2 separate regions of the Homo sapiens genome follow, and region 1 is linked to region 2. Evidence: fine-mapped expression QTL. A gene starts in region 2. The other region holds a variant in brackets. All regions are shown on one strand. Distances are between the middles of the regions.

Region 1 (4,380 bases), 170 kb after region 2:
CATATTAAGGATACACGAGTGATTTTTAAACCCGCCACATAAAATGTTTGATTTTTATCACTCCAGTTTATATTTGGCTGAGGAGTATGGGGAGAAAGAGTTTCTAAGATCTCTTAAAACCCTGGGATCTAGCTATCCGTAGATAAGACAATCCACCCAAATTTTGCTCATACAGTATCAGTCTTTGTAATAGCACACCTGACTGAAAGAAAAATAGAAGTAGCACATCCTATGTTACATAATGTTATATATTTGAGAATGAAAACTCACTTGAAATTCAAACACAATTTAAGAGGAAGGTATCCAAACTTGAAAAAATTTTCATGAGTCCATCTCTTAATAATTAGATAGGCATGTATAGTCAGAAAGTTTCTGAAAACACTGATTCTTTTGTTCTCTCTCTCTCTCTTTCTCTCTCTCTCTCTCTTTCTCTCTTTCTTTCTCTTGGCAGGGTCTTGTTCTGTTGCCTGGGCAGGAGTGCAGTGACGCAATCATAGCACATTGCAGCCTTGAGCTCCTGCACTCAAGCAATCCTTCTGTTTAGGCCTCCCAAGTAGCTGGGACTACAGGCGAGTGCCACCACAACCAGTTAGTGTTTTTTTGTTTTGTTTTGTTTGTTGGTTTGTTTTGTAGAGACAGGTCTCAATAGGTTGCCCAGGCTGGTCTCAAACTCCTGGCCTCAAGTGATCCTCCTGCCTTAGCCTCCTACAGTGCTGCAACAACAGGAGGGCCACTGTGCCCAGCTTCATTTTCTTGTAACTAGAAGAATATGTTTCATTAGCTTATAATAGTAATAATAATAGCTAGTCTAACCTTTATAGTGATGGATACTGTGCAGGGTCGTACTTACTTGATCTCATTTTCTAGATGAGAAAATGGAATCTTAATTAAATCGTTGGTCCAAGCTCACTCAGTAATTGGCAGAGCCTGAATGTGAACCCAGGCCTGCCCCACAGCAGAGCCCTCCTGTTTGAGCATTATGTTGAACTTCAGGGAAATGACACAAATCCATACAAATCAACTTGGCAATGCTGGCGGTAGCAGTGCTCAACATGGGCACCCACAGTTTGTCACCTCATGACGTCTATTGGAATGTACTTGGGTCAAGGCAGAGGAGGTGCAGAAACTGCTTGTCTCCTGATAACATTACTGTAGTCCTCAAAGGAAGTGTGAAAATAGGACTTCATTGGCCGGGCGCGGTGGCTCACGCCTGTAATCCCAGCACTTTGGGAGGCCGAGGTGGGGGACCACGAGGTCAGGAGATGGAGACCAGCCTGGCCAACAAGGTGAAACCCTGTCTCTACTAAAAAATACAAAAATTAGCTGGGCGTGGCAGCATGTGCCTGTAATCCCAGCTACTCGGGAGACTGAGGCAGGAGACTCGCTTGAACCTGGGAACCAGAGGTTGCAGTGAGCCAAGATCATGCTGCTGAACTCCAGACTGGCGACAGAGCTAGACTCAATCTCAAAAAAAAAAAAAAAAAAAGAGAGAGAAAAGAAAATAGGAGGGCACTGCTGGCCCTTTGGCCGTGGGAAGTGCTGCATGAGCTGTGAGTCATGCTCTTAGGCTTCGGCCTCTGTGGATGCTGACCACTGACCATCACCAGCAGGCTCTGGACAGGCAAGGTGGGTTTTGTCTGTCACAGTCATGTGTAGTCAGTGGAGAAGAGTGGTTTCTTTTTCCACTTCATGCAGCTCAGAGTTCTGTGAAGGCACCCGGGAGCCAATCTCGGTTTGTGGATGAGGCAAAGTGGCTCACAACCAGGTTCCTGCTCTGCGATCCCCAGGGCAGCTCCATTTTTGAGGTTTTATGGAAGACATCACTTAAAATGTTTCAGTGCTGAAAAAAAGTTTGAAAACCACCCTCCTCCTGGGAGACAGCATAGGATAGTGGTTAAGATCGTGGCTTTGGAGTTTGACAACATGGGTTCAAATCGAGGCTCCGCTCCTGTGGATTGTGTATGCCTTGGGCAAATGAACCCTTTTGAGCCCCAAATGCAGCCTGGCTCAGAGTGGGCATCAGGAAGTAGTGGCGACACACACCACTGTCTGG[C/T]CCCACCCGTGGGTGGTGAGATAGAAGGAAACCAGGTTAAACTCAAAGAGAGACAGAGAAGCCGAGTGGTTCATGAAAGAAAACCCTGGGCTTGGCTTCCCAGACAGGTTTGAAGCAGAGAGGGGTTTGCCTACGTCGTACCAGTCAATGTCTCCTAAGATCACAAAACTGGATGCCACCTTAGAGAAAAGGCAATCCTTGTCTTGTTATAAACTGAAAACTGAGGCCTGAGGAAGTTGTGCTTTGTACCAGATTTAAATTAGAAAGCTATATCCTGCAAAACATTCTATTTTTATATCCGAGTAGGATTTGTCCTTCTTCTGGAAATCTCCACTTTCTTTTTTTTTTTTTTTTTGAGATGGAGTCGCTCTTGTTGCCCAGGCTGGAGTGCAATGGCATGATCTTGGCTCACTGCAACCTCTGCCCCCTGGGTTCAAGACATTCTCCTGCCTCAGCCTCCTGAGTAGCTGAGGTTACAGGCATGCACCACCACACCTGGCTAGTTTTGTGTTTTTAGTAGAGATGGGGTTTCTCCATGTTGCTCAGGCTGGTCTTGAACTCCTGACCTCAGGTGATCCACCTGCCTTGGCCTCCCAAAGTGCTGAGATTACAGGTGTGAGCCACCACGCCCAGTCTTCACTTTATTAGTAGTTTTCTACGCCTTAGAGAATGTGGGGGGTGGTGCATGAACGGCCTTGCTTAGGGAAAAGGAACAGCACTGGAACAGAAGAGAAAGAAAACCTAAAAACCTAGGAGGGCAAGAGCTGGGGTGGATATATATATATATATATATATATATATATATATATATATCTGTAAATACATACACATGCATACACACATTCTCTATCCATATATCTAGAGAGGGAGACTGATTAAAAAATGGAAATCAATATCCCTTGATGCAATTTTTAACCCATTACAACAATAATATGAGTACAGACCTTCCATATAAAAATGTTTTCACATAATTTTCAGACACCTGGAAGTTATGTCAACGCATATTTAATCTAAAAACAAAATAAAACTAGTTCCCCCCCTTCTTTCTTTCACTGCACTGACACAGTGAAACATCTCTGGCCTCAGCTAACTCTTTGGCCACATGGTGCTCCCACCACACATGTACAGAGAAGGGCTTTTGGTCCTGGGAAACTAGGGCACAGAAGTCAACAGTAGGTGTTCTAGAACAGGGGTCCCCAAACCCCAGGCTGTGGATTGGTACTGGTCTGTGGTCGTTGGGAACAGGGCCACACAGCAGGAGGTGAGTGGCAGGAGAGGCAGCATTACTGCCTGAGCTCTGCCTCCTGTCAGATCAGCGGGGGCATGAGATTCTCATAGGATCACAACCCTATGGCGAACTGTGCATGCGAGGGATCTAGGTTGCATGTTCCTTACGAGAATCTAACTAATGCCTGATGATCTGAGGTGGAAGAGTTTCATCTGGAAACCATCCCCCAACCCTTCCCTAGTCCATGGAAAAGCTGTCTTCCACAAAACTGGTCCCCGGTGACAAAAAGGTCGGGGACTGCTCTTCTAGAGGGTGCTTCCCCAAGTCTTTAATTAGGAAGAAAGGCCATTTCTTCACTGGGCCTCCTCATGAGAATCCCAGAGTTCACTAGCTCAACTGCTGACAGTGCCATGCTAGTTTTAGTCTTTTCTTAATGGAAAGGGAGAAAAAGATGAAAGCAAATGCATCTTATTTGGAGGCACTTCAGAGGAAAGTCAGAAAGTATGTCACTCGGTCTGTTGTGAGGAGCACTGGGTGGTCAAGCACTAAACACTCTGGAAAAATCCTGAAATGTCCTCTGTGAAATTCAAGGTCTTTCCAATACCAAACAAAAGTGCATACCACTTAGCGTGTTCTTCTAAAAAGTTGAAAAGGCCGTGTGTACCTTTCGCCTGTAATCCTAGAACTTTGGGAGGCCAAGGAGGGAGGATCCCTTAAGGCCAGGAGTTTAAGACCAGCCTGGACAACATAGCAAGACCCTGTTTCTACAAACAATTTAAAAATTAATCAGGTGTGGTGGTGCGAGTCCGTGGTCCCAGTTACTCAGAAGACTGAGGTGGGAGAATTGCTTAAGTCCAGGAGTTCAAGACTAGCCTGGGAAACATGGCAAAAACCCATCTCTACAAAAAATACAAAAATTTGCTGGGCATGGTGGCATGTGCCTGTAGTCCCTGCCACTCAGGAGGCTGAGGTGGGAGGATCGCTTGAGCCCAGGAGTTTGAGGCTGCAGTGAGCAATTATGAAGCCACTATACTCCAGCCTGACAGAGCAAGAATCTGTTTCAAAAAAATAAATAAATAAATGAACCATCCCCCAGATG
Region 2 (4,380 bases):
AACACGGGAGTCCCTGGAAACAGACGTGGGCCAGGCTTCTCCTCGCTACTGGTTAAGCTGGGGCGCTCCCGCCAACAGGCTCAAAGCCCCGGGAAGCCCCTAGTGAGGCCCCGTGGCCGGTAACCCCCAACTTGCAGGACGCTCAAGACACAGGCCACCGCCCTGCCGGCCAGGAACGCTGGCTCCGCGCTTACCTCGCAGGCCTTGAGCTTGTCACCATCTCCCTCAGACAGACCAGTCCGACGCGTGGCCATCATTTCATTTCAAATGACAAAGAAGGGACAAATCCTTTGGAGTCCACATTGGACGTGGCGGGGAATGCCACCACACACCCGAAGGGGAAGAATTCCACAAGCAGGCTCCGAGGAGGGGCAGGGCTGTTGAAACAGACAACGTGCCAGGGAATAAAGGTTTTCAGGAAGCGCCTTCAAATGCCTCGCTGATTTCTCGTGACTTCAACTGACTTCGCCTTCTTCTTCCATTTCTGGAGACTTAAAAACAAAGGCGACAGGTCTTCTTGGCAGCCAGTGTCGAGGCCAATTGCAGAAAGCGGTCCCCTTCTTCCCAGTGCCACTCCTGAGTCCTGGAAAAATCCGAATGGGTCGTGAAGGTTCGAGTGTCAGCTCCTAGAGAGATCCTAGGAAAACGAGAAGTTAAAGGTCATGAACTTTCTCCAGGCGCCTATCACTGTCTTGCCCACATGTCCACACCAAGTTCGCGTTTCCTCCCGAGCAAAACAAACAAAAAAAAATTTTAACGTAAACAAACAAAAAGCCTATAAATTCGAGGGGGTGTTTAAAAAAGAGAAATCTCGAAACTGCCCAGCGGTTGCGTCAAACACACCTGGCTGTTATGCAGCCTTCAAGAAAAAATGTTCCCCATTCAAGTGCATTTTAATTCATGTCTTTCCTGGGTAGAGCAGAGGGCTGTGCATGTTGTTTTCTGCATCACCCAGACAGGGACACTTCGGTGAAGTTTTCTCCCCCACGAGGCTGAAATGGGATCACACTTTCCAAGCCCCCTCTTCGCTCCCCTCCGCCCCCCAAAAACGCAAGCACAAAGCCAGCCTGGCTGGGGCCGGCGTGGGCTCGGCGGCGTCTCCGGGTGACTCGGGCGCCGCCCCTCCGCCCCTCCGCCCCGGCCGGCGTCCCCGAGGAGGCGGCTGTTTTCCTTGGCCCGCGGCGGGGCTGGGTGGGGACGGCCGGGGAGGCGTGCGCGGCCGCGGGTGGGACGCCGGCGCCGCTCCCGCTCCAGGGCATGATTCTGGAGCTACACCCGAGCAACTCTGAAGTCGCGGCTTTTCCCCCAACTACCACTCGACACGGCTTCCCTTCCCCTGTGGCCACCTAGGGGGAAAAAACGAGAAAAAGCAAACCACCACCCACCTCCCCACGATTCCCCCGCCCCTTCCTGAGGCGGGTCGGGGACCTCGAGCTCCCGAGGAGAGCGGCCCCAATATGGACTTTCTCAAAGGTGCTAGGAGCCCCGGGGCGAGACAAAACCGGGGGCCTTACCCTTCCCGCCCGCTCGGGCCCGGCGGCCGAAGCGCGGCGGCGAGCTGAAGCGGAGACGCTGGCCGGGCGCCGGGCCCGGCCGGGACGCGCTAGGCCGCAGGCTCGGTTAATATTCATGAGCGGCCCCAGGCGCCCCTCCTCCAAGGCTGGCCGGCCGGACCCCAGCGCCCACCGCCGGCCTTTGTGCCCTTCCCTCCGCCCCGCCGCCCGCCCTTGCTCCGCACACGCGGGCGCGGCCCCTCCGCCCCCGCCGGGCGCCCGCCGCGGGCTCCCTCCGGCCCCGAGCCAGCGCCCGGCCGGGTGGCCTGTGGCGGGAAGGGAGAGAGCCCGCGGCAAGCCGGGCACTCCACGGCCCGCGAGCGCAGCGCCCTCTCGGCTGAGACGGAAAAGAAACCAGACACGCACCAGAGGAAGCGGGACGAGTGGATCCGCACGGGGCTGGCCGGCTCCGGGACAGCGCGCCCCGCCCGCCCGCCCGGCGTGAGCCGGACCCCGCAGCCGGACGATCCCGCGCTGCCCGCCGCCGCCGCCGCCGCCGCCGCCGCGCTCCGAGGCCGCCGCCCCCGGCCGGCCGCTCCCAGGCACCGCCGCGACCTGCCCCGGCCGGCCCCGGGCTCTCGGCCGCCGCAGGAGGGCGTGGGGCGGGGCGGCGGCCGCCGGACTCTCCCCTCGCCTCGCCGGGCCGGGCCGGGGCCCAGCTCCGGCGCCCGCGAACGCCAAGTGACAGAAGCGCCTCGCTCCGTGGCCGCGCGGAGCTGTTTCCCGGGGGCGGATTTCTCGCTTCTTCCTCCCTGGATCCACCTCCTCCCACTCCACCTCCTTCCCCTCCCCTCCCCAGGGGAGGCTCTGGGGCTGAATATTTTCTGTCTTGAATAACACGGGACCGGGGAACCGACGCTGGAGAAGGGGGATTAGCCGGAGGCCGGAGCGGGGTGCTCGCCTGCCCCCTCCCCGTGGGTCGCGGGACCTACAAGCCCTCGCCCCCCAGCACCCCAAAACCAGGCACACAACGCTCCCCGCCCCTGCAGTCTCCCAAGCGCTGAACGGCAGCGTCCAGGGATGGGCTTGCTCCCGGGAAAGGAGACCTGGTGGTAGACGTCTGGGGTGGAGAGGGGGACAAGCCTATAACAGCGACATCTGCAGACTCCAGGGATCAAAGGTCCTAGATTGGGGGACAGGGCTTGGCAAATTGTGCCCCCACCCCTTTTTTGCAGCGGGAAGGCAATGAAGCTGCGACGAGACGTGGGACTTCCAGATAAGGGAGTGTCCCCTCACGCCTCACAGCAAAAATCTCTTCCTGTGGTGGGAAGGGGGAAGTTAGCCAAGCGTTGCTCATTCAGTTCTTTCCCTTTTATAAATTCTGCAGAGCGGCTGAGCGAATTTGGCGCGGCTAGCGGAACTGTGGAGAGGCGGCTGCGCTTCTCTGTCCGCCACACTCCAGGTCACAGCGGCTCCGGAGCCGCGGCACAACCGCCACCCTCCCCACCCAATTCCCGGGCCTTGTCACAGACCCCGGCAGCTCGCTCCGCCCCGCCGTGCCTCACAACATCTCCCGCTGCAAATTACCCAATCGGGAGACGCGACGAGAGAACGCGAACCAATCAGGGGCTGGTAAATCAGGCTTCCCTCCGCCCTCTTCCCCGCCCCCGGGTGAAGGCCACCGCCCCCTCGGCCTCTCCTTCCCACCCCGCCCCGCTCCGGGGAGGTGGCTCCCCGGCTCCGAGCCTCGCGGGGCTGGAGGGGGAGTTGCTCGCAGTCAGAGGCAGCGTTTGTCACCTTGTCACCCTCATCCTCGCCCCCTCCCATACACACTCCCCTCCCCTTCTCGGTGCTCCTGCTGGTGCTGTTGAGGGTCATTTTTATCCTCACTGCGGCCGGGGACTGCCAGCTATTGTGTCTGATCAGCTGCCACCGCTGTCCAGAGGGAAAAAAAGAAGAACAAAACCTAGAAACTGTGGAGTCCTCTTACCTTTTCCTTCTTTCTTTCTACACTCTCCCCTGTAGACTTAGAAACATCCCTTCTCCTTCCCCGCCCGCCCACCACCTGAGGTCCTGTTTCTTTATGGGGGACAGGGGAGCGGGGACAAAAAACACTCCCTGCAGCTGGAGTACCTGCGCCTTAGTTTTTACATCTTCCTTAAAGTGGAAGGTGCCAAACCAAATCTACAACTAAATCCTCCGCTTCAATTCGAGGGAAGACGTTGACGAGATCATTTTTATATGGCCATGAAATTTGCGTGTTCTTGACAGCCTGTCACCAAACAAGTCAGCTAATAATCAAGAAAAGAAAAATAGAATAAAATACAAGGACTGTATTTCAGTCAGATGGTAATTTACTAAATAGCCCAGTGGCTGTAGCAGTATCCAGTGCTAGATACAATTGAGTAAATTAACAAGAAGTGAATAGAAATTCAGGGTTCAAGTAGCTCACCGCTTGTGGGCTTATAGAATATGTCCAGAAAGGAAAAACAACTTACAGCACAAAACAACTCCTTGCACATGCAAATGTGCATGCATGGCATGAACGGCGTACCTAACAGCTGAGGACTTTTGGGTTAAAATTTTTGCACTAGAAATTTTTTAAATGTTGATTGTGAAATTTTCAGTTTGATAAAGGAGAGTAAAATGTGGGCCATGAAAGGAGAAGGAAAAGGAAGGAAAACACATTCTAGGAATTATGGAAAAATAACATAACCTAGAGAGGCAATATTTCTATAAGAGGTAATAAGATGTAAGGATCAAGATTACAATCCAACTCCATCATTTACCACGTAACTTAGGGAAAATTATGACTTATGTGTCTAAGTACTAGAGCTATCAAATTCAATACCTCCTGCTAGGTACTCCTCTAAAAGCTTTACACACA

What was found. PIP is the estimated chance that this variant, and not a neighbour inherited with it, causes the effect.
Region 1: its variant is the best candidate, but not a certain one, in a credible set for the expression of ARHGAP21 in blood mononuclear cells (TOPMed, PIP 0.89).

What each region holds. Positions count from the first base shown.
Region 1 is chr10:24,892,863-24,897,242 of GRCh38, forward strand. All of the region lies in intron 3 of PRTFDC1 (phosphoribosyl transferase domain containing 1), which reads right to left. Among named protein-coding and RNA genes, the nearest start is that of PRTFDC1, 58 kb to the right of the region's middle. The variant C/T (reference allele first, on the strand shown) is at 2,054.
Region 2 is chr10:24,721,643-24,726,022 of GRCh38, forward strand. It overlaps ARHGAP21 (Rho GTPase activating protein 21), which reads right to left and starts at 2,245. Exons shown (of 26, transcript NM_020824.4): 1 at 1,920-2,245; 2 at 195-637. The coding sequence starts at 257. RefSeq lists silencers at 1,025-1,334, 1,395-1,754, 1,775-1,854, 1,945-2,014, 2,045-2,234 and 1 more and an enhancer at 1,778-2,688.